Linked DNA regions of Homo sapiens: region 2 is linked to region 1. The links come from fine-mapping of genetic effects on gene expression. A gene starts in region 1. The other region holds a variant in brackets. All regions are shown on one strand. Distances are between the middles of the regions. Region 1 holds the start of CHD5 (chromodomain helicase DNA binding protein 5). Region 2 overlaps CHD5 (chromodomain helicase DNA binding protein 5).

Region 1 (15,658 bases):
CAATAACCACCTGCCCCTGATAAGACAGTGTTCAGAAAACTGAACCTCCATGAACAACAAACAGAATTGCCTTGTTGCCATCACTGCCGGAGAAACGGAGCATCTCTACCAGGAAGGAGTTGGGGCTGATAGAGCAGAGTACAGACCTCAGTGAGGCCCATCTCTCCCTCCAGAGAGAGGACCACAGTGTGGCCAGGAGGTGGCTCGAGAATGCTGGACCTGCCAGGCACAGTGGCTCACGCCTGTAATCCCAACACTTTGGGAGGCTGAGGCGAGCAGATAACCAGAGGCCAGGAGTCTGAGACCAGCCTGGCCAACACGATGAAACCCCGTCTCTACTAAAAATACAAAAATTAGCTGGGCGTGGTGGTGGGCGCCTGTAATTCCAACTATTCGGGAGGCTGAGGCTGGAGAATCGCTCAAACCCAGGAGGTGGAGGTTGCAGTGAGCTGGGATCGCACAACTGCCCTCCAGCCTGGGCAACAGAGTGAGACTCCATCAAAAAAAAAAAAAAAAAAGAGAGAGAGAGAATTGTGGAGCACAGGGACACTCAAGCCCCAAACCTGAGGACCCCAGGGGTTTGCAGGACAAACTCAGCAAGGAAGATGCCAGGATACCCCATGGGTTTGAGAGGATGCCACCTTAATGGAGAATCCAAGACCATATCGTATCTCCTCGTGGATCCCGCACCTGTGCACACACAGGCACACAGGTCCGCACTCCCCCACCTCCAACACACTCACAACGGGAAGCCAAGCGCATTCCAGCTGGGCACTAGAAAGCTGTGACAGTCCACAGAGAGACGCCGTGCCCAGCACACGTGGGTGTTCAGGACTCACCTCACCTGCACTGACTCGAAAGGCCGAGGGGGCCCTGGCCGGGCAGGCTCGGGAAGGGAGTATGTTTGACGACACTGGCCACAGTCCCAGGTCTGCCTCCCTCAACCTCCAACCCAGAGGAAGGGCTGCCACATGTCCTGGGGGGTGTGACGTGAGACCCCTGCTGGGACGGCAGTAGCCTGGGGTCTGACGCTCATCTGGGAAATCAGGATAGAGAAAAGGAGTTCCCACGCACCAGATATGAGCTGTGGAGGGGCTGTGGGGAGGGTCCTCTTGGCAGGCACAGCAGCAAGAATCAAACCATCCAAAGTAGAGACACTTCTGCCCGTGGGGGCAAAGGAGGCTTCCAGAAGGGAAGAACCTCCAAGAGTCCTCTAGAAGGGCCCACGAGAGAGCCGGCCCTTCATGCCAGCCTGCGGCCCCAGCGCCCCAGCCAGCTTGTCCTACTCGCTCTCCACCATCCCCTGTGCACTCAGGAGCACTCAGGGGAAGCTGAGGGGCAAAGAGAGGCCCCTCAGCCTCAGACCCTCTGCCATGGACACCCCAGGCCTGACCTTCTGTGACAGTGGAGACACAACAGGGAGTGTCACTCAGAGCCTGAGGGTTGCCTCCAGTGGGACCCCGCGGAGGACGAGAGGTCCTGGGGCCACCAGGAGGCTTTCACCCAGGAAGGGGGCAGAGTGTCCCTGCTGGATCAAGTTTAGAGACAGAGAGCCCCTTCCCCCGAGGAAGTTTTTGATCATAACCACCTACAGCTGGCAGTGTTGGAGCCAGGTTCGAACCCAGGCAGTCTGGTGACCCTGGTGACCCCTGGGTCACCAAAAGGGCTTCGAGGCGACCCCCAGTGTGGCCCACACGCTCAGACACACTCGCCACATGCAGACGCACAGACATGCATGTGCACCCAACACTCACCTGTCACCCTCCACACAGGCCCCCACCGCCCGGCCTGGGACCCCCAGAGAGTCCTAAGCGGGGAAAGGGGGACAGGAGGGCTCCTACCCTGGGTCTCTGGGGCTCCCATGGCCCACACTATGGGTGCAGCTTTAGCCCCACTGTCCCCACTCCTCGGGGGCACCGGGGCTCTGGTGGCTGAGCGGACGCCCCTCCCACCCTTGCATCCCACGGGGCCAATGTGCACCAGTGGAAGGTGTTTGCACCAGTGGAAGGTGGGGGCTGCACCACTGTCTTGGTGCCTCTCTGCACCAGGGCCTCCCTCAAGGGTGGCCAGGTGCTTGGGGCTCCCACACAGGGAGGGCACCCTGTGGAGGGCTAGGGCACACAGGGGAGCCAGCAGCAAGGGCCGCCCCAGGTGGGTTTATGTGGGTGAGGCCCCAAGCAGCCAGGGGCAGGGGCTGGGCTGCTCCGGCTGACCCCACCCCATTCCTCTGATCACTAGTGTGGAAAGGCGGGGATTTTTCAAACCAGCTGAAAACGTGCACGGGGACCCCCTCGGAGTCGTCCTGCAGAGCAGGTGTCGGTGGGGCAGTGGCAGGGCTGGCGGGGAGCTGTCTGTGGTGGGGCAGCCGATGGGATGCCAGTCCACAACTGCCCGCTCTGCCACCGGGCCTCCGCCTCCCCCGCCACCGCAGGAGACCGCCTGGGCAGAGCCACCCCCACACCCTGGCGGTGCCCAGCACTGCTTATGTAACGGGCTCTGGCTGATGCAATCTCGAGGGGGGGCCTCTCCCTCCTGCTTCCTCCCAGCTGTCCCCTTCCGGCAGGGTGGTCCCAGACTTAGGAAACCCAGCCCAGCACATGGTCACTGACTGGTGGCCTGACCAACAGAACGGATGAGGGTATGCACAGGTGGCTGCCAGAAGTTCTGGAAGGAAGTCTGGGATCTGCCCGTGGGTAAGGGGAGGACAAAGGGGGACCCCTGCTCTGGCCCTAACCCACGCCCAGAACAGGCCTTCGAGGACAAGGCCCCAGACCCTCTGCCCATGGACAGACCCCAGCTCCGTTCCCAGAAGACCTCACAGCCCAGGGCCTCTGCCTGGTGAAACCCACCTCTGAGAAGGCTCTGGAACTGGCACACGGAGACGGGGACTCAGCCCTGCCTAACCCTGTCTCTGATGGGCCCTTCCTCTCCCCAGATGGCTTCTGGTGGGTGGCCCTGAGGTCACCACACGCCTGATTCTCTATGACACTGCCCCCCCCAACACCTCACACGCTCCCGTCTTCAGCCAAGCCCCAGCCCCTTTCTGCCCTTGGACACTCTCTGCTCCCGCAGCAGGTCCTGAGCTTTCTAAAACCAGATCTGGGGGTCACCATACAAGCAACTGCACGGTCAGCCTTTCCCCAAGCCCAGCCTGTGCCCTTGAGCCCACCAGTCCCTCCTCCCTATGGCTCCATCTGGTGGGGACAGAGCAGAGGCCCAGAGGGTTCCAAGACGCAGAGCATGCAGCCAGTGTTAAGGTGGCATCCTGCCCGTCCCGGGTGAGGGGCTCCAGGGAGGAGCAACCTCACCTCAGAACTCCTTGTCCTGCCAGCTCCTGGCCCCTCGTGGCTGCCCCACCACCCTCCTGGCCCACCTGGCAGTGCCCTCATGCACCAGCCCTAACCCTCCAGGGCCTGAGGCTCCACGGATCCAAGCCTGCTCTAATTAAGACCCATTACCCTGTGATCACCCACCTCCTGGGGGTGGAGGCGGGGTGGGGCTCAAGTCGACCAGAGGAAGGAGAGGCACCTTCTGCTGCTTTCTCCAGAGCTCCCTCAGCCCCTCTCTAGCTCCCAGTATGCGCCAGCTCAGCCCTGTGGGACCCCCAGGCTGGCCTAGGCTGAGCCACTGCAGGCTGCGGCCAGGCCGATGAGGTGGGCCCTTCTCAGGGTAGCGCATTGCAATAGCAGCAGTCGTGATAACTGCATACCACCTGCCAGGCTCGTGCCAGGCCCAAAGTACCTAGGACTGATTAATTTGTATCAGTTCAACACAGCAACTCAGAGAGGGGTACTATTCTTTCTGGTTTGGGGCTTTATTTATTTATTTATTTATTTTAGAGACAGAGTCGCTGGCTGGAGTGCAGTGTTATGATCATGGCTCACTGCAGGCCTCGACCTCCTGGGCTCGAGCGACCCTCCCACCTCAGCCTCCTGAGCAGCTGGGACAACACGCACAACCACCACACCTGGCTCAGGGTTCTATTCTTATCCCCATCTGCAGATTGGGAAACTGAGGCTCAAAGGACCTCATTATTTACCTACATCTCAGTCCTACAGCTGGCAGTGGTGAAGCTGCCACTGTTTGAACACAGGCAGTGGGCGCCCACCCCCTTGCGAAGTCTCTCCCCCAGCACCCTCCCACTGAAACAGCCCACGCTGTGTAAACCGGCTCGGTGGATGCCCTGGGGACACTGAGGTGACTCAGGCTGGTCTGTGGTCTGGCAGGTCACAGGTCCCTCAAGGGGGTCAAGGCTGGTTCACCACACTAGTCCCCCTGCACACAGCCCCACAGCTCTGCCAGACCCAGGCTCCAGCCCCTCACTCCTCTGGGGAGGGGCAGCAGCAGAGCAAGGACGCAGCCGCCAGGGCACTTGGCAAACACAAGGTGATCAAAACAAGGGGAAGGCGCGTGACTGTGGAGCGAAAGTTAGGTCATCTGATTCTGGGTGGTTGAAGGATTTGCAGGGGCCAAGCCAGGAGCTGGGACGAGAACACCATCACCAGGTTGCAAAGGCCGGCAAACCTGCCAAGGACAGGGACCCCACTCAATGTCCACCACTCTCTCCAGGACCTGGGGAGAGGCGTTATTTCTTTTTTTTTTTTTTTAGACGGACTCTCGCTCTGTCACCCAGGCTGGAGTGCAGTGGCGCGATCTCGGCTCACTGCAAGCTCCGCCTCCCAGGTTCACGCCATTCTCCTGCCTCAGCCTCCCAAGTAGCTGGGACTACAGGTGTCCGCCACCACACCCGGCTAATTTTTTGTATTTTTAGTAGAGCCAGGGTTTCACCATGTTAGCCAGGATGGTCTCGATCTCCTGACCTCGTGATCCACCCGCCTCGGCCTCCCAAAGTGCTGGGATTACAGGCATGAGCCACCGCGCCCGGCCGAGAGGGGCTATTTCTGTTCCCCACCTGGACTCCCCAACCAGCAACAAGCAGAGAACAAGGCCACCAGGAGGTCAGGAGGAGGGAGCAACAGGGGCAGCAGAGGCTTCAAGCTACCCCTCCTGGAGGTGATACCAGCAAGTCCCCTCCCCACTGAGCCTCTCTCTTCATCTGTGAAATGGGCCTAATGTGGCAGCCTTTCCCCCAGGGCTATGGGGAGAAGTAAAAACTGTGAATGCAAAGGACCCACACGATGCCTGCAGGGGCTCAGCAATGGCAGGCAGAGCCCAGCGAGACCCAGGAGGGTCAGGGCGGCAGTGGTGAAGGGCAGAGGGCAGCGGTCTCTAGTTTGGCCACTGCTGGGCCAGAGGTTCTCAGGGCCACCCTAGACGCTGGCCAAGGAGTTCTCAGGCTGCCGTTAGTCCTCGAACCTCCCCCCATGAGACAGGGCTTATGCTGGCAAAGGGGGGCAGTACACCGCCCAAGAGAGGATTCATAATTTATTTATGACATTTAACAAAACCCAGACATCACCTCATTGGTGTCACATCAAAAGAAAGCATCAGTCCTGAGTGGGGAGTGGAGGGAAGAGACGGGGATAGATGAGGCATTTACCCCAAGTGACTGGGGCCTGGGGGGAGTCACCCTGGGGGTGCAGGGAAAGCAGGGAGAGGCCCAGGGCATGGGTGGGGAGGAGGAGGACAGAATGGTGAGAGGGGAAGTCAACCTGGGGGGACAGGGAGGGACAAAAGAGAGAAAAACGGCCAGACAGAAAGGGAGAGGCAGGGGCATGACCTCAGGGGAGACGAAAACTGACAGATATGGGGACAGAGGGAGAGAGAGAGACAGGGAAGGAGAGTGAAATAAGGACAGAGCCACAGAGATAAGCAAAAGCCCAGAAAGTTAGACAACACACATTGTGTTCAGTACCCAGCTCAGAGAAGATATTCCAGAAGTCTCTGATGGGTGGACGGATAATTGTATAGTGAATGGATGGATGGTGGATAGGTGGATGGATGAATGCATGGTGGATGGATGGTGAATAGATTGATGGATGATGAATTGATGGATAGATGGTGGGTAGATGGATGGATAGATGGATGGATGGTGGGTGGATGGATGGATGGATGGATGGATGGCAGATGGATGGACACTGGACGGATGGTGGATGGGTGGATAGTGGATGGATGGTGGATGGGTGGATGGACGAATGGATGGTGGATAGATGGTGAATAGATGGATGGATGATGAATTGATGGATAGACGGTGGGTGGAAGGATGGATGGTGGATGGGTGGATGGATGAATGGATGGTGGATGGATGGTGAATAAGTGGATAGATGGTGAATTGATGGATGGATGATGAATTGATGGATAGATGGTGGGTGGATGGATGAATGGTGGATGGAAGATGGAGGATGGACGGATGGATAAATGGATGAATGGATGAATGACGGATGGATGGATGAAAGATGAATGGATAGATGGATGGATAGATGGTGGGTGGGTGGATGGATGGATGGTGGATGAAGGATGGATGGTGGGTGGGTGGATGGATGGATGGTGGATGAAGGATGGATGGATGGATGGATGGATGGCAGATGGATGGCTGAATGGATAATGGATGGATGATGGATGGATGGTGGGTGGATGAATGGTGGATGAATGGATGAGTGGATGGTGGATGGATGCATGGATGGATGGTGGATTGATGAATAGATGGACAATAGGTGGATGGATGGATGGCAGATGGATGGATGGTGGGCGGATGGTGGGTGGATGAATGAGTGGTGGATGAATGGATGAGTGGATGGTGGTTGGATGCGTGGTTGGATTGTGGATTGATGGATGGATGGTGGGTGGATGGATGGATGGATGCATGGATGGATGGTGGATGGATGAATGAATGGATGGTGGATGGATGAATGGATGGTGGATGAATGGATGAGTGGATGGTGGATGGATGCATGGATGGATGGTGGATGGATGCATGGATGGATGGTGGATAGATGAATGGATGGATGACGGGTGGATAGATGGATGAATGGTGGGTACAGGAATGGATGGATGGTGGGTGGTGGATGAATGGATGGAAGCATGAATGGTGGATGGGCAGATGGATGGATGGTGGATGGGCAGATGGATGGATGGTGGATGGGTGGATGGTGGATGGACAGATGAATGAATGGTGGATGGATGGATTGGAGGATGGATGAATGAATGGTGGGAAGCATGGACAGATAGTGCATGGATGAATAGTGGATAAGAAGAACAAGAACAAATGGATGGATGGATGGATGGATGGATGGACGGACGGACGGATGGATATACATATGGATAGATAGGTGGATGGTGAATGGTTACTTGGTTGGTTTTGTGGGTCGACGGGTAGATGTGGGAGAGCAGGTAGATACATGGATACATGGATGCATGGATGGATGGATGGATGGTGGGAAGCATGGACGAATAGTGCATGGATGAATAGTGGATAGGAAGAACAGATGGATGGATGGATATGGTATGGATATGGATTGATAGGCGGATGGTGAACGGTTACTTGGTTGGTTTTGTAGGTGGATGGGTAGATGTGGGTGGGTAGGTAGATGGATGGATGGATGATGGGTGAGCGACTGAATGAACTGATAAAATGATAGATGGATCCTATTACCTGATCAACTTGGAATGACAATGAATAACCCACTGGCCAAGCCACTGGGCAAAGTGTGCTGGTCATTTTGTCTCCCTCCTCCCAGAAAAGAATGTTAAATACAATCAGGCTCCCTGGGACCCCCCTACCAAACCATGCTTCCACAGGGGTAGGGGTGCAGGCTAAAATGTCATGGCCTTTTGGGAATCATGACTGTCACTCTCTCCTGGCCCCTGGACCTGAGGAAGCAAGCCTAAGATACTTACACATCTAGGGCCAATTGTCACTGGGGCCAGAGAGGTAACGGTGCCTAGTCCAGACATTGCCCATTCTGGGCTCACTAGCTTTGTCTGTGATTGAGGAAAAGCTGGGCCAATGAGGCAGGGAATTTGCCAGCCCAGCAGTGGCCCTAAGAGGGCTGAGAGCCACATTTTCTGAAGCCCTCTCCTGCTTCCTGCCACCCCTACCTTGGGCTTCACAGCCCTCCTCCCACCCAGGCTCCTACTCCCCTGAGCTTACTGGCTAAGGATGCAAGTATCAGAAGCATTTCCTTGGAGAAGGCAGGACAGCTGCCCTCCTTGGCTGGTGCTAACTACACCAGCCACAGTTTATTGAGCACCTATCATGTGCTGGGCACTGTGGCCTAATGTTCCACATGCACTGTCTCACTGTTCCTCATAATAACCCTCTATGAGGTAGCCAGTGCTATGTCCCCATACTACAAGTGGGCACACCGAGGAGAGGGCTGCCTGGCTTGTCCAAGACCACTCAGCTAATGCTCAGAGCTAGAAGCCAAGGCCTCATCCCACCAGCTCTTGACCCCTGGCTTCAACCAGCCACCCCAACTCCCAGGAGAATCTGGCAACTGCTGGTCCCCCAACCAGAAGAGGCACCCGCCCTGCCTTCCTCCTAGAAGCTGGCTCAGACACCTGCCTCAATGCCAGAGCTGGCCAGGGCAAACCTCCCCCTCCCCACCATCACTGCACGGGAAACAATAATTCACTGCTGAGAGTGAGCAACTCCCAGGGGGAGGTGGGAGATGAGCAGAGTCAAAGAAAAAAGATCGGACAAGTCATGAGTTTAATAGCCGTAGACTGAAAAATCATCATGACAGCTTCCAAAACACTAGCTCCTCCAGCCACAAACTTCCATCTTTTGGAACCAGCTGGTTCTGGTCTTTGGGGGTCACCGCCACTGAGCTTGGACTCAGGGCTGCATAGGGGCTATGAGGAAGAGCTCAGGGTGAGTGGGGGGCCAGCAGTGCGACTTGACAGGAGGCCTGGCTAGGGCTGTCTTCACAGCCAGAAGCTGGGGTGACCTAGAGAGTCCCAGCCCTCAGACACTGAAACCACAACCATCTCTCAGGAACGCATGGTTTCAGGTGCTGGGCATGGCAGGTTATCGAGAGTTACATTCGAAGGGGAACCCACAGATCCAGGAGGAAACTGATGACAACGTTTCGAGTATGTGAGGTGTGGTGACACAAGCATGTAGTCCCAGCTACTAGGGAGGTTGAGGCAGGAGGATCGCTTGAGCACAGGAGTTCAAATCCAGCTTGGGCAACACAGCAAGACCCCATCTCTTCCAAAGAAAGCATGACAATGTGTCTCAGAGTGACTGGAAGGCCCTTAGCAAGGGTGTCCCTCCCCATCATAACATTCGAGCTGGGACCTAAATGACCAGGAGGCAGCGGTGAGCAGAGGAAAGAGCAGGTCAGGCAGAGGTCACAGCCAGGGCCCCATGGCAGGATGGAGCGTGGAGCGTGGAGTGTTCCAGAAGCAGCAAGGAGGCCAGCGTGGCTGCTGTGAACAAAGGGGTACAGGAGTGGACCCGGGACAAGGGTTTCAGAGGCGACTGGAGCCATGCGGGTCGGGATCTGACTTGGGTTCACGAGGTGACCCCAGCTGCTGTGCAGTGGGTGGTCAGAAGGAGTGGGTAGAAGGCCCTGGAGGGGACCGGCAGGAGGGGACAGAGGCTTGGACCCAGAACATGGAGAGAAGCCAGGAGCCTGGAAAGGCTCTGGAGGTGGAGCAGCTGGCCTTGCTGATGGATGGGGACAGAATCCCCAGGCCAGAGGTGCCAGAGCAGGGCGTCTCTTCTGCAGGGCTCTGGGGGCACTCCTGGAGGCTCTGGGGCCAACCCACCGAGGGGGAGCACGGGTGGTGGGCAGGATGACCAGAGCCCCGCCTCTCTGGCCCAAGCAGTGAGTCGGGTGCCTACTAGACTGGGGGCACCTTCCCTGGCCTCTTCCCCTCCCCAACCTCTAAGTCCCCACATAGTCAGAGAGAGCCGGAGTGTAAGATGGGAAAGACAGCCAGGGGACTCCACCAGCGGGTCGGTGCAACCCCAGAAATGCCACTGATCCCACAAAAGGGCCACACCCCAAACACCATAACAAACAACTTGCTGAGAAAACCAGTAAACTGGCTTACTGGGGAGCCAGCCTCCTAGGTGGAAAATGGCCACTGATTTTTTTTTGTGCCTGTGCGGGGCCTCAGAGTTCCCCTCCGGAGAATGGGTCTAATTCCAAGGACCCAGGATATGACAGTCAACTATTGTCCAGGCAACTCCACCCCAAGAGAGGACTCCCCTATTCCCCGTCCCCAGCACGCTCGCTGCCAACTTGGCCTGTCTAACAGGCGAGGTGAGTGCCGGGCTCCTGTAGGAGCTCAGTGACAGCATTAAAGCCACCAACTAACCAAGCAAGCAAACAGAAGGGGGCAGGGGGTGTGGCCACCTGGTGGGAATACCCTCCCCAGAAGACGCTGGCTGCTTCCTCCAACAGGAGCTGGAGGTGTCCATTTGTGGAGTCTTCTCACCCCTGGAAGTCAGAAGGGGCCAGATGCACGTTCCTGGGCCCGGGAGGGCCTCCAGCCTCCCACAAGTCTCTCCGAAGTCCAGAGAGGCCACAGACTTGGCGCAGGGAAGCCGAGAAGTAAGAGTCTCCCAGAAAGGAGGGAGGGTGGCTGACAGGGTGGGGCCCTACCCAGCTGTGCCAGGAGGGAAAACGTCCCAAACAAATGGTGAGCAGTTAACTAAAGAACTGTCCCGCAAGGCAACCCCTGGCGCACAGCCCTGTGTATACTAAATTCTGAGAGAGATAAAAGGAGAGAGATGGTAGGGGCAGGGGCGGTGGCCCTGGGGCGTCAGGCCCGTAGCCAAGGCAGGGTGGGCTGGGAACGGCCACCACCCTGGGCGATGGTGAGGCTGGAGACAGCGGCGGGCGCTAGGTCGCGCCAGAAGGACGCCGGCGGCCCGGGTAAAGTGCTTGGGAGCGGCGGTCACAGCGCACAGAGGCCAGGAAAGAGGAGCAGGGGTCCGAGCCCGTGCGTCCCAGAGCGGAGTCCTCCTGGGCCGGGAGGGAAGCCGCCCCATCCTGGGCGCTCAACGCGTCCCCAAGCACCGCCGGTCCTCGCCCCTCTCTGGGCCCCACCCAGCCCGCCCCGCGGCCGACATGGGCCAGGGGCCGGGTCCCGCCTGCCCGCAGCGAGGCCAGAGGCGCACGGCGGCGGGACGCGAGCGCGGGGTGCGCCGCTCCGGGAGCTAGCGCGATTCCCGCCCCCTTCAAGGGCACGCGGGCTGACCCTGACAGCGCCGCGCCCCCCAGCGCAGGCCCCGGCCCGCGGTCCTCTGGCCCGCCTGGCCCGCGTCGCCGCCCGGGGGGCCCGGATCGCACCCCGCCCTTAGCCGCCCTCACGCCGGCCCGGGCGCTCACCCAGCCTTCGCCCTTGGCCGCGCGGCGCCAGCAGGGCGGGAGCGCAGCCCCGCAACCCGGGTGCCCCTCCTGCGAGGCGCCAGCCCGGCCGCGCCGCCCCCGCCGCCCGCGCTCCGCCCTGGGCCCGGCCCGTCTCGGCGCCCCCGCCGCTCTGGCCCCAGGCGCACCCGCGCCCCGCTCACCTGACATCTCGTCCTCATTCTCCATCTCCTCGGCGAACAGCCGCGGCAGCTCCTCCTCGGTGCCCACTGGGCCCCGCATGCCCGGCGCGGGGAGGAGGGGAGGTGGGCGCCCCCCCTCCCGCCGGGCGCGGTGCCAGCCTTAACCCGTGCGCTGCCGGACCGGCGCGCGCGGCGGGCGAGGCGGCCTCGGCGAGAAGATGGCGGCCGCCTGCCCCCCCACCCCCCCAAACCTCCACCCCCCCGTCTCGACCCCCCTTTCTCTCGGCCGCCTTAGCCTGCTCCCCGCAAAGCCCGGGCGCTCCTCCCACCGCGCCCCGCAGCCCGAGTCCCGCAGCCGGCCGAGGGTGGCGGCGGCAGCGCCAGAGGCACGGCGGCACGGCGGGGGGGCGGCACACATGCCCGGATTGTGACGTCCAGTCTGGTTGCTGTGGCAACCCCATCCCATCGTTCCGGCAGCGCGACTAGTTAACAGCAGAGAACAAGTTGGGGGACTAGTCCTGAGCCGCCGGGTGAGGGTGGGGACCGGGGGGCGCCCCGGCAGGGGGAGCCGTCGAGGCGTCCGCGCGCCCGCGGACCCGACGGCCGAGCGGGCAGTCGGGGCTTGGCGAGCCCGGGCGCAGGGGGAGGCGAGGAAACACCGCCCCCGCGCACCCCGGGCAGAGCCAGCCGCCGCCGCTCGCCTGCGAAGGCGCTGGGCCCCGAGCCCCCAAGGGCGCGGAGGCAGGGTCTTCAGGGCAGCGCGCGGCCCGCTCCCCCACTCGGTTCACAGGCGCCGGGACCCACCCCGCTCCCGGCTCCGGCCTCGGCACGTTCCTAACCCCCTCTCCAAAGAGGATTAGAAGAAAAATGTGTTCCACACTTGGGGAAAAGACGCTCTGGAGACTGTGGGTCTGATTTACAGCAGAAAAATCCGCGCAGGCGGGCTCCCCTCACCTGCTTCCCCGCTCCCACCGCCCACGTGCCCCCTTCCAAAAAGCCCCTCCAGGCTGGGTGCAGCTGAAACCCATGCAGACCCCTAGGGGTGGTGCGGATCTGCGATGTCTGTGCCCAAAACTCCCGCTCAGAAGCGACACCTGTCGCAGAGCAGGAAGGAGCCGCCGCCACCAGCCCTCGGTCGTTAAAGGTGAAGATGGAGGCCAAAGCCCTCGGGAGCAAGACTGGAATTTTAAATGAGCGCCTCCAGTCTCCGCGGCGGCAAGTCTTAAAGCTACCTTAAGAACGCAAAAGTTCCAGGGGCTGGCCGACCGCCAGCTCTCTAACCCCAGAAGGCCCGTGAAGGGAGGGCCCCCTCTCACTGCCTCGCAGGGGCACTGGGGGAACCCACCTGAGACACGCAGGATCGGCAGCAGTTTCCCTTCTTCCCGTTCAATTTTATTGCCAGCAAACCCCAAACAAAAGACCCTCTGCATTCATCCCTGGGCAAGGAGAGGTCGGTCCAGCCTTCTGGAACCAAAGACTGGGGTGTTGGGAACCCCTCCATCTCCCAGATCCGCTTTAACTACGCTGTAGATAGAGAAGCCGGGTCAGCCCAGTGCTGGCCGCCTGCAAGGGGAAAGGAACACTCTTCAGGGAAGCAGGCCAGGAAACCAAAGGGCCTCCCCTCCCAAGGCCGTGTTTCCCCACAGAGCAGCTAGCCAGGGGGAGCCCCAGATCACCGAGGCTTGAACCAAACCTGCCTCTTCCTCGTTCTTTCCAGACCAACTGCCTCCATGAATGGTGACCAACAAGGGAAGAAAGCCCTAAGCTGACACGCCCACCCCTCAGTTACCAGCCCCCCAACACCTCTCTAATCCCTTTCAAAGGTCCCCTGCCCTTCGGTAGAAAAACTCTGATTTACAATACTTCTCATCACCAGAAAGCCGCCCCCATCATTAACCCTGGCTCCAATTCCCAAGGCGAGGCTGAAAGTCAAGATATCGTTCAAGAAAGAACAGTTCTAACTGCTTAATCTGGCAACAAATTAGAGCCGAGATGCTCATCAGTCATAATCCTCTCCCCATCCTGTTCTTCCCGATGACTGCAACTAGGTAATATTATTTAATGTCCAAAAGCAAAATGAAACAAAAACTGGAATGCTAGAAACAAATGGATTTTTTTACTACAAATCTCCAGGTTTTTTGGGTTTTTTTTTTCAAGGGGGGGAGTTGAGATGGTGTCTGTCGTCAGGCTGGGGTGCAGTGGCGCAATCTCAGCTCACTGCAAATCTCCGCCTCCCGGGTTCAAGCGATTCCCCTGCCTCAGCCTCCCCAGTAGCAGCTGGGACTACAGGCGCGCACCACCACACCTGGCTAATTTTTTGTATTTTGGTAGAGACAGAGTTTCACCCTGTTGGCCAGGATGATCTCAATCTCCTGACCTCGTGATCCGCCTGCCTCGGCCTCCCAAAGTGCTGGGATTACAGGCGTGAGCCACCATGCCCGGCTCTCCAGTCATTTTTAAAGGTGAGCCCTTATTATTGTTAAACTATTAAATGGGTATTTTAATGACAACGGACCAAAAATGCATGACGTTAAAAGCAATCCCTGAAACTTGCAACTCTGCGTTGCAAGAACAAGCCTATCATTAAGGTTACTGTTTTAGGAGACAAGATTCTCATGTTTGCTGATCATAGAGCTCATAATTACACCTCAGTGACAATTCCAAAATCAAAATATTTTTTAATATACCGGTTACAAAAGCATCAAGGAAAAAACTTTTTTCGGCTGGGTGCAGTGGCTCACACTTGTAATCCCAGAACTTTGGGATGCCGAGGCGGGCAGTCATGGATCACCTGAGGTCAGGAGTTCGAGACCAGCCTGGCCAACATGGAGAAACCCCATCTCTACTAAAAATACAAAAATTAGCCGGGCATGGTGGCGGGCGCCTGTAATCCCAGCTGCTCGGGCGAGTGAGGCAGGAGATTCGCTTCAACCCAGGAGGCAGAGGTTGCAGTGAGCCAAGATTGCGCCACTGCACTCCAGCCTGGGTGACAGAGCGAGACTGTCTCAAAAATAGAAAAAAAAAAAACTTTTTCCAAGAACAGAGTGGAAAAAGCTCATCGTCTTCTGCACATACCATACTCAATTTCCATTCCAGGACTAAATGAACTCCTCATCCAGGAACCCCCAAGGCCTGCCTGAGGCCATTTCGTTCAACAATGCATATCCACGCTGTGGCCACCTGGCACCACCAGCTTCTCAAGGGCAATGAAGTGCTTGTACATACACCACCTCACAGCGAGTCACATAGATCAAAACTCTGCCCCACACCTCCTCCTCGGCAGGGGTGAAACGGCGTCACTCAGGACCGCAGTGTCCTCTGCAATGAAGGCTCAGTGCCCACCTGCTGCACCAAGACTTTCGTTGCACTTGAAGGCTTTTTCCGAAAGTGTGGACCCTGCACCACCTGAATTCAAATCAGTTGGGGTTGCAGGGGAGGAAGGAGCTTCTCAAAAAGGCAGCCCTGGGCCATGGCCCTGAACCTGAGAAAATCCTTGTGTAAGCCTGAGAACGTTTTATGGGTGTTCTCTGGGTTCTAGCTATGGTGGCAGCTAACTCACTCCGCTGGTCAGCACAGCCTTTACAGACTGTTTTAGCTGGGCCCAAAATAGCCTGGGGGAAAAAAAAGAATGTGTATTCTCAAATCCATCCCAAAGACAAGAAAATGGCTGGATGAGAAATTCAGTTTCCTGTTCCTAGAGATAAGCACTATGATTGCACCGTTTAACAGGCAGTCCTCACCTCCTTCCTGTAGGTGGAGGGCTACCTCCTTGCAGGGATGGCAAATCCCCACACCAAGCCTCTCTTCTACCCTCTTCTCCCTCAAAGAGAATCAACCCCACAGTTTATTCCACTAAATACAGGCCCATCACCACGACTCAGCGAACAACCTGGGCAGGTGCCAACCCAGGCTCTCCTTCAGGGACCTGGCCCATCTCTCACCGCCGTGGTGCCCCTACCCTGCAGCTTCTGACTCGTCACCCCAGTATTCTGTCCAAGGGTTACTGGGGAGATGGTCTGTCCCCTGGAACTGCCAGATCTGTAACTGTCCCACATCCTAGGTCCCCCTCTCCTGTGGGAGGTCTTGGTTTACAATACTTGACAAGTTTAAGGGTCTGAGTCCCATGTACAAATGGAAAGTGAAATCAGGTGTCAACACCAAATTCCAGGCTCCCCTGACATCAATGACTTCAACAGCCGGACCATTATTCCCCATCACCAGGGTCCTTATCACCCTCCAGGAAATCAAGTG
Region 2 (10,144 bases), 27 kb before region 1:
AGAGGAGCAATGAGCCAGCCTCCCACATCCTTTGCAGCCTCTGTGGCAGGGATGAATCCCATTTGTCACAGGGTCTGGATTTTCACAGGAGTTCTGGATTTCTAAGTTGGAAAGTTCTCCTTCCTGCCAATGGACTCAGTTTTCTAACTTAAAATACGCAAAGGACTTGTGCAGTGCCCACGTAGGGTGAGGAGTCATCTCTGCAAAGTAGATAAGGATGCAATTCCTGCGTGTGAGGTGGTCTCTTCTGGGGACACAAAGACCCAGTGACCAAGCCCAGCAGCACACAGCTTGATTCTGGCCACTGGGAGGGTCTTTAGGGCCTCCCACCCACCCAGGCTAAGGCAACCAGGCCAGAGGAGTGCTGGAGGGCCGGGCTGGGGCTTGACTACCCCACACAGCAGTGCCGAGGAGGCACACAGACCCGGTGAGCAGCGGCTGCTGCGGGCCTGGGAACATTAAGAGAAAAACCGATCCCGTTACCACGGCAACCGATGTTTGTTTGTTTTCCCATACATAATTGATTGTTTTGCAGATTGGGGGAACAAATCTGGGGGAGATTCACCTGCCCCACTTTGGGGCAGAGAGAAAAACTACCATGTATATTTTTAGCATGTAATTTAGTAAAGGTAGAAAACCATGGGCCAATTCATTGCCGGGCTCAGGTTCCCACAGGAACTGACCCTTGAAGGTCATTCTCAGGGAGGCCTGGGGAGGAAAAGGGGGGTGTCCCATAGTTGAAGGGGGGCAGTTTTTCAAATTCCGCGACCCTCGTACTGAAGACCACCCACAGCCAGCCTCTGGCAAGCTCCTGTCACCCGTGCAGCAGCCTGTTCCCTAAAAGGGCCTCAAAGCTCAGCAGATGGGAACCGGGATTGAAATCTGAACATCTGGCTCAGGCTTTTAACCTCTGCTCTACCCAACAGCTGCCTGAAGCCAGAAGCACTGAGTGTCAGAGGCCACCGATCCTAAGCCCCTCAAAAACAGAGGCCACAGGGTAGCTGGGATGGGGAGCACAAGCTCCAAGCTGCCACCAGGCAGCAGGTACTCTGGGCCCCACCCCAAGGCCCATCTGTCAGCCACCACCAGTTCTCAAGCACCTCAACTCAAGAATCAGCAGGCATTCCCACCACCCACCAAATCAAAACCAAAGCCCACGGGCCTCCTGCCTCTGGCTCTTTGTGCCAGCCTCCTGCAGCCTCTGATTGCTAAGGCATCCCAGGGAACTGCCAGACTGCTCCAGGAAGAGCTGCTGCTGGGGCACTGGGGGGTGCAACAGTAGCTAAGAAAGCAGGTCCTGCAGTCAGAAAGCATGGGGTTCAAATCCCAGCTCCACCCCGTGGCTGTGTGATTCTGGCGACTTAACCTTGCTGTGCCTATTCTCACATCAGTAAAACAGAGGTGAAAGTAAGACGCCTCCCTCCCAGGGTAGGCAGTGCTCAGTACAGCCAGCTGCTGTTACAAACGCGGGGGAAATGTGGACATACTCCCACACCTCGGGCGTCCCTCGTCCTCAGAACCCTCTTGCTGGTATCAAGCACTAACCCAGCATGAGGGTCCCGACGCCCCAGGGGTGTGAACACGTATGCATGAGTGTGCCGGCATGCATGGGACGGCCCCTCTAGCAGGTCAGGCAGATCTCCAGCACTGGGAACCCTGGGCCCTTCCTTGTGCCCCTGCTGTGCCCACATGTGGTTCTGCACGGCAGCCCCAAAGCAAGGGCCCTGGCACCCTGCGCTGCACCCATTTTACAGGGCAAAGAAGCTGACGTGGCCCGGCCCCAGCGATGGGCAGGGTGGCCGCCTGCAGGCACACACCTATGGTTCAGGATTCGGTGAATCATCATCCACTCTGGCTTGATGCCATAGCGGTAGAAGCGCTCCTCCATCTTGGCATAGAGGGGGTCCTTGTTCTTCCTCTTCTCGCTCTTGCCGTCTTCATCCCCAGAGCCGTAGTCAAAGGGGGGCGGCTCATCCATGTCGTTCTTTCTTTGGTAGTTGCGATACATCACCGTGTGGTACAGCTCCAGCTGCTCATGGAGCGGCACAAAGTCACAGAAGGGAGATGGGCCATGGTCCCCTGCATCTCCCTACCCAGCTCCTCTAGCCCCAGCCCAGGTCCCAGGCAGGACAATCCTCCCGCTCAGCACCACCCCAACTCCCAACAGCACCCCTCAGTCAGAGGCGCTTCAGCCCCTTCCCGCCAGCCCAGGAGGGTCCAGGGCTCACCAGGTCCCGGGCCTTAGCACAGCCACCCTCCCGGGCACTCACCTGTAGCTCCTTCACCCAGGAGCAATGCCAGTAGGACAGCCCTGCCCACTTGACAAAGAACTCTCTCTCAGGGATGCCCTCCAGGGGCTTAGGTGGAGGGAGGCTGGGCTCCACGTCAGGCCCCGGCAGCCCCACCATGAAGGGGGCAGGGGGCTCCGTCCACCTCCAGTGTAGAATCCGCTGGACTTTGCCCTTCAGTGGGGGGCACTGTGGACAGAGAAGGGTCCCCAAGGTGGGGCTCAGCTGCAGGGCCCCACCCTGAGGCTCCCATGACAGCAGGCTGCCATGCAGGCTCCCTCCCATCAGTGCCACTGCCCCCAAGTCAGAACAGTACCACGGTGACGCCATGACATCCACCCCGTCCCCAGGAGCCGCATGGGTCATGCACACAGGAGATGGGCAGTGGGGGTCTGTGAGACCACGTGGCCCTTTCACTCAATGGTGAACTTATCGGCACCCAGAATATCTGAGCCAGCGTAGGTGAGACTGCCATGTGCATAGGACAGAGGGGGAAACTGAGGCCCACTCGGCAAGGGACAGCAGAGCAGGGAGCAGAACATGAGATTCTGGACTTCCCCTACCTTAGGTCTTCCCATTGCCCCCTGAAAAGAGGTCACATCACTGTGTGATCCCCAAGCACTCAGGGAGCATGAGCCCTGTGCTGGAGCCCAGGGACACGGCAGCCCCATCCACCATCCCTCACCCGGGGCAGGGCTGCACCCAGGCACCGTGCGTCTAGGCTGGGACAATGAGGCCCCATCTCTGGCAGCCCACAGACACACTGCAGGGGCCCTGACAGATGCTAGGGTGACAGTGAGCTGCTGGCTGGCAAAGGCAAGAAATACAACAGCCACAAACCACACCACTCGGGCCCTGAGATGGGTGGGAGCAGCCTTGGCCCTCCAAGGAGGCGGTGCTGTCTGACTGGACAGGGTCGGGGGTGACTGATTCAGGGAGACAGCTCTGGTGGGGATAGCAGGTCCCAGCTTTGCTACTACCTGTCCTCGGAAACTCATCCAAGCCTCCAGAGCCTGCTTTCCCATCTGTAAAATGGCCCACCCCTTCCTCCACCTACCAGATCTGTGGTGCCACATCACACCTGAAGGCATTCTGGAGGTGCAAGGTACACCACACAGCCAGCCTTCCTTTGGCCTTGGTGACAGCAAAGGCCGAGAGGCAGAGGAGGAGGAGGAGGACATGGGAGGCAGGAAAGGCTCCTCCACTGGCTCTTGGGGGAGTGGAAGAGGGGACCCTTCCTACCCAGGCCATGGACCCTCCTACCCCCATCCCAGCCCCTCAGGGAAGAAGCTGAGAGGAACCCCACTCCTGCCCCCCTCCCATCCCCAGGGCCTTCCATCAATCCTAGGAAAGCACAGAAGGCTGCACCCCTCAAAAGGGTCCTCCCCTGGCCCCTACACAGACACAGACAAGTATGCGCACGGATGCACGCACACACATACACACGCACAATGCACACAGGA[C/T]GGCCCAGGGCTAAAGGAGGCACAGCCCAGGACCTGAGGGGTGGAGGATCTGGCACCACAGGGGGCAGGACAGACAGCTCAGAGCAAGGGGCCTTCCGATGTCTACTGTGACTGGGGGGTGACGGATGGGGGGTGCCCCTCTTCCTGTAGAAACTGAGGCTCCCGCCCTAGGAGCCTCCTGCCCTAGAAGCCTCCTGCCCTCTCCCTATCCCCAGCCTTGGAACAGGAGCCAGGTCTGGGGTGGCTCCAGGAACCTGAATTTGAGTGGATAGTTCTGCCCTTGTGTGGCCTTAGGCAGGTCACTCTGCTTCCCTGAGCATCAGTTTTCTCATCTAAAAAGGGAGTAACATGCCTGGTGCCAGAATACTCAGTAATGTTAAAGGACACTATGATGGATGTGGAGCCCTTGCAGAGCACGTGGTCACTGAACAGTGGTCGCGGTGTTGGCATGATCACCACACCTGTCTGCCTTTCCCTAACACTCATGCCTCCCGTCTCTAGGGGAGTCAGACGCGGAGAAGGGCGCGAGGAAGCTATTGTGGACGGGGTCTCGAGCAGCGCGGGCGAAGCTTTGCGGGATCGGCTACCGAGGCGGGGCAGGAGCCGGCAGGGGCGGGGCCTTTTGAGGAGGGCAGGCCTTCCCCTGGGGGCGGGGCCTGTTCCTGGGGTGGGGCGGGGCGTCCGGCGCGGGGCGGGCGGAACACTCACAGTACAGCGCGGGCAGAGCCATTCACCGTTTGGGATCTCGGGCAGCGGCGGGTTGAGGCAATGCAGGTGGTAGGAGGAGGGGCAGGCGTCGCAGCAGAGCAGCTCGCCCCCGTCCTTGCACACGCGGCAGAACTCCATGTGGTCGTCCTCCTCCTCCTCGCAGCCGCCCTCCTCCTCTTCATCGTCGTCGTCCTTCGGCTCCCACTGGATCCCCTCCTTCTCCTGGGGGAGGAGGCCAGGTGGAGGCACCCTGGGCGGGGTCCCCGCTCCACCAGGCCCGACTCCCTCCCTCCCCTACAGCATCTCCCCGCATTCTGCCCCCAAATGAGGGCACAGGGGTGGGGGAGCCAGGCGTGGCCCCGCCCCCAGCCCGGGGCTCTGCCAAGGCTTACACAGTGGGGGCAGCTCCACTTGCCCTCGGGAGCCTTCTCCAGCTCTGGGTCCAGGCATACGAGATGGTAGGCCCTCGGGCAGGTGTCGCACAGGATGATCTCCCCACCCTGCTGGCACACCTCACAGTAATCCTGGTGGTCTGTCTCATAGCCGTCACCATCATCAACTAGGGTAGGGGAGAGGCAGTCATGGAAGTCCTCATCCACACTCCCAGCACACAACCAACTGCATCGCCCCAGGCCAGACAGGCACAGAGTAGATGTCTAATAGAGGGTGGATGGAAAGGTGGGTGGGTGAATAGACTGATGGTTGAGGTGGTAAAAGGGTGAGGAGATAGAAGATGGATAAAAGGAAAGAAGGAAGGAAGGAAGGGTAGGAGAGTGGGTGGATGGGTAGAAAGATGAATGGATAAATGGATGATGGATGGATAGACAAATGGATGGATAGATGAATGGATGGACAAATGGATGGATGGATGGATGATGAATGGACAAATGGATGGACAAATGGAAATGGGTGGACTGATGGATGGATGGATGGATGGACAAATGGATGGATGGATAGGTGGATGGAAGGATGGATGGATGATGAATGGACAAATGGACGGATGATGGATGGATGGATGGATGGACAAGTGGATGGATAGATGGATGTATAGATGGATGAATGGACAAAAGAATGGATGGATATATGGATAAACCAAATGGATGGATGAATGGATGGGCAAATGAATGGATGATGGATGGATGGACAAATGGATGGATGGATGGATGGATGGATGGATGGGCAAATGGATGAGTAATGGATGGACAAATGGAAGGATGGATGCATAGATGGACAAATGGATGGATAGATGGACAAAAGGATGGATAGATGAATGAACAAATGGATGGATGGGTGGACAAATGGATGATGGATGGACAAATGGATGATGGATGGACAGAGTGGTAGATGGATGGATGAACCAATGAATGGATAATGGATGGACAAATGAATGGATAACGGATGGACAATGGATGGATGGATGATGGATGGATGGACAAATGGATGATGGATGAATGGACAAGTGGATGGATGGATGGGATGGATGAATGGATGGACAGATGGATGGATGGACAAAAGGATGGATGGATGGATGGATGGATGGATGGATGGATGGATGGACAAGTGGATGGATGGATGATAGGATGGATGGATGGATGGATGGATGGATGGATGGACGGACGGACGGACGGACGGATGGACAAAAGGATGGATGAATGGATGGATGGATGGATGGTGGATGGATAGCTGACGGATGGATGGACAAATGGATTGATGATGGATGATGGATGAATGGCTGGATGGATGAAGGATGGATGGATAAAAAGAAGGGACTGAGGGAAGGAGGGAGAAGGAGGGATGGGAAGGAAGGTGAGGTAAAGATGGGTGTTAAGTGGGTGGGGGGTGACTGAAGGGAGGATGGCGATGAGATGAAGCACTTCCCTCTCCAGTCACCACACTGCTAATGCAAATGCCCTGGGGTAGCTCCCACCATAGGTTCCTTGTTCTTTCCTTACTGGGACAGGATGCCCCTCCCCAGACAGTAGAAACCAGGGCCGTGTGGGAAACACAGGGGCCCCACCTGGCTGAGACATGAGGATGCCCTCCCCCTGCTTCCCACGGGGAGGTTCCATGCCCCGCACATCCACCCGGCAGGCCGAGAACCGTCCAGATGGGGAGTCCTACTCGTGCCCCACTACATCCACCCAGCAGGCCAAGAACTCTCTGGAAGGGGAGTCATACTCCTCTTCTTCTTGCGCCTCCTCTTGCTCTTCTTGCCCAGGGCTGCAGAGCATTCGGAGCGCACGGAGGCACTGTGGATGCTGGCGCTGTCGAAGTCCGACTCCTCCCTCTCATCTTCTTCACTCTGCAGGGGAAGACAGGGTCCTGTGATCCCAGGGCTTCACCCAGAAGGCTTCGCTGGCCCAGGCAGTGTGGGGTGGGACAAAGCACGGAAGAGGCTCTGGAGACACAGTGCTCTCTGTGATTCATCTCAGCCCCCAACACAGCTGAAAACCTCACATTACAGCCTGCCTGTCCAGCCTGATGTCCCACCGCCTACCCAGAGCCCTGCTCTCCAGCCTCAGACACTTCCCACAATTTCCACCTCTGAACAGCTTCCCAGGCCTTGCCCTCCATCCTGCCAAACTCCTAAACATCCTTCAAGGGGCAGCCCTAGGGACACCTCCTCCAAGAAGTCTTCCCAGATCTCTCCTTTACTGGACCTACTGTGGCTGCGTGTGTGCCAGGTCTGGCCTGTCCTGTCTGACTGGTACATCACGGGCTCTCCACCAGCAAACATGCCTGCCAGGTGACGAGTGCTACAGGACCACGGCCCACTGTGGCTGAGCAGCGGGCCTGGTACACAGTATGTGCTCAACAAATATCTGCTAAGCTGAACTGGACCGTCAGCTCCAGGGCGGGCCACACCTTCTCTCCATGCTCCCCTCCAGACCTAACACTGGCTCCTGCCATGGTGCAGGGAAAGAGCTTCCAACTCCACCCACCGCAGGGCTGGGGTGAGGTGAGGGAGGCAGCTACCTGTGGGGGTGAGGAGGGCGAATGCCCCTCACACTCACAGAGAAAGGGGGGCCCCAAGGCTGAGTAAGACCTGGGCTTAGTGTCTGAGCCTGGGCCCAGAGCTGGCCCTGAGGACAGGAGGAGGTAACTGGGGCTCCAGCCAGCCTGATCCTACCCACATACCACTTCTCTAGGGTCCAGCCCCCACCCAACTACTCCCCCCGAGAGCAGACCTGGGTGCTGGGCGGCCAGGCCCCACCAGGACAGATCCCTCCACCTCCTGCCCAAATGGAGTTGCAGCTGTGGACAGCAGGAGCCAGGACTGAGCTCCCACTCAGGAGGGTGAGCCAGGGGAGCACTCCCTGCCCAGAGTCCAGGCTAGAAGGGCCCTTGGAAGGATTCAATCTAAACTCCTCATCACACAAATGGAGAAACTGAGGCCCAGCACACCTGCATGTAGGATGGAAGGAGAATAGTGGAGGGGTGCGACCTGCCCCAGCTAGTTTGTAATGAACTGAAGGCCCTCGCCTGGCCCTTGCGTGCTCATGTGCAGACACACATGCATGCAAATGCACACACACGCGCACACACGCACACACTCACCGAGGAGCCTTTCTTCCTCTTGTTGCTGATCCCCCCGAAGCGGAACTTGAGCCCGGCCGTCTTTTTCCCTTTGCCCTTTTTCTTCCCATCTTTGGAGCCTTTGATCTTCTTCCTCACTCCAGGCCCTGAAAAACAGCAGTGATGATAGCCAACCACTGCCACCACTGACGGCCTGCTTCCTGCCATCATCTCACTGAGCTCTCGGTTACCCAATAAGGAAAGGGTCATTTCTACCATCACCCCGTTTCAGATGAGATGCCTGAGGCTTGGAGAGGTAAACCCCTTGCTTAAAATCACACAGCAAGTGAGGCAAAAACCAGATGACGGCTCTGACTGGAGGCTGCCCTGACCGCCTTGCTGCCCCTTGTCCATGACCCACAGAAATGTGGCCCTTTTGGGAGGATCCCCTATACCGTCTCCAACCACTGAAAGGAGGCACTAGCCATCCCCCACAGCCAGCAGGGCCACTGAAGGCACAGCCGCCCACCTGTGGTCCATGCCTGAGCCCCCAAAGGATGTCTTGGAGCCAAAAGGCCTTTTCCCACCTGCCAGCCAGGCAATGCTGGTCCCACCCAAGACTGCCCCACCTCTGCCAGTCAACCCCAGCAAGGGCCAGCAGGGCTGAGGCTGTTTTTATGGAGCTGGCCACAGGGCAATTAGCTACCTGGGGAGTAATGACCCAAGAAGGAAGGGGGGCCTGGAGGCAGGGATGCACACCCCACAGAGGCAGCCTCTCCCCAGGCCGTCCTCTGGCCACACCACACACACGGACATGGAGCTAGGAGCCCAGCTGCACCCTCCATGGCGCCGCGGAAAATCTATTTCAATTTTCCAAGCTCTGAATAAGCAGCTCATGGAATCGATAGCTCAGCAGCTGGAGCGCGAGAGGAAATGAGAAAACAAGGCAGGCTGGGCAGACAGGGGCGGGCCAGGAGCCCCTCCCGAGATCCTGATGGCCCAGACAGATGGAGCAGGACAGGGAACAGACTCTGACCCTTGTCACTTCACCCACCAGGCTCCCTTCAGAGACTTGGCATGGTGATGCCAGACACAGAACCCCAGAAACTAAAGCTCCTTGGGGCTGAAAGAAGGGATCCCCGGAGCCCCCTCAGCCCCTTCCATCAAAACCCAAATCAGCCAGACGCGGTGGCTCACACCTGCAATCCCAGCACTTTGGGAGGCCGAGGTGGGCAGATCACCTGAGGTCAGGAGTTCTGAGACCAGCCTGGCCAACACGGTGAAACCCCGTCTCTACTAAAAATACAAAAAATTAGCCAGGTGTGGTGATGCACTCCTGTAATCCCAGCTACTCAGGAGGCTGAGGCAGGAGAATTGCTTGAACCCAGGAGGCGGAGGTTGCAGTGTGCAGAGATCGTGCCACTGCACTCCAGCCTGGGAGACAGAGTGAGAGTCTGTCAAAACAAAACAAAACAAAACAAAACAAATCAGGGCACCCAGGAAAGCTGAGCTGCAGGTGACTGACAGCCCTGGGGAGATCAACATCCCCAGCCTCCAAAAGGCCAGAAACCTGCACCCAGAAAGCTCCCTCCCCAGGGCCTTCAAGTCACAGGGGGCCTCTGCTGCCTGCATCCTCCCCACCCAGACGCCCTGCCACTGAGGCAGAATTTGGATCTCGATCTCCTTCCAGGCCTGTCCCAGAACAGCCTCCCTGGGAAGCGAGACCTGGCCGTGCCCAGTCCCTCCAACTCCTGCCTGCTTCCCGGATCCTAAAGCTGGAGGGGCAGGGCCTCCATGCTCCACATTGGCCGAGGGCCTGGAGAACAACCCTGCACACAGTGGGTATGCAGACAAGAAGAAGAGACGGGCTCGACTGGGGCCTCCTCCTCCTCCCCAGAAACGGCACAGGCTCAAACCCAAGAGCCTGCCAACTCCCAGAAACCCAGGCTGGAGCGGCTCCACTCTGCGTACCTCTGGTCCCGCCCTCCCTCCAGGCCCACGTCGGGGGCACCTCCTGGCTGGCCAGGCTCAAACCTCCCAGACCTCTGCCCACATCATCGCCTCTGCTTCTCCACCAACCCCAAAAGGGAGTCAGGCACAAAAGAGGCGACGATGCTGCCTCACTGCTGAGAAAGGACCGGGCAATCCAAGGTCACACAGGCACAGAGC

What was found. PIP is the estimated chance that this variant, and not a neighbour inherited with it, causes the effect.
Region 2: its variant is fine-mapped to the expression of CHD5 in blood mononuclear cells (TOPMed, PIP above 0.99).

What each region holds. Positions count from the first base shown.
Region 1 is chr1:6,168,517-6,184,174 of GRCh38, forward strand. It overlaps CHD5 (chromodomain helicase DNA binding protein 5), which reads right to left and starts at 11,805. Exons shown (of 42, transcript NM_015557.3): 1 at 11,429-11,805. The coding sequence starts at 11,507. RefSeq lists enhancers at 10,061-10,562, 10,563-11,062.
Region 2 is chr1:6,144,395-6,154,538 of GRCh38, forward strand. It overlaps CHD5 (chromodomain helicase DNA binding protein 5), which reads right to left. Exons shown (of 42, transcript NM_015557.3): 6 at 8,018-8,142; 7 at 6,638-6,761; 8 at 4,852-5,018; 9 at 4,460-4,681; 10 at 2,271-2,477; 11 at 1,818-2,029. Among named protein-coding and RNA genes, the nearest start is that of CHD5, 31 kb to the right of the region's middle. The variant C/T (reference allele first, on the strand shown) is at 3,752.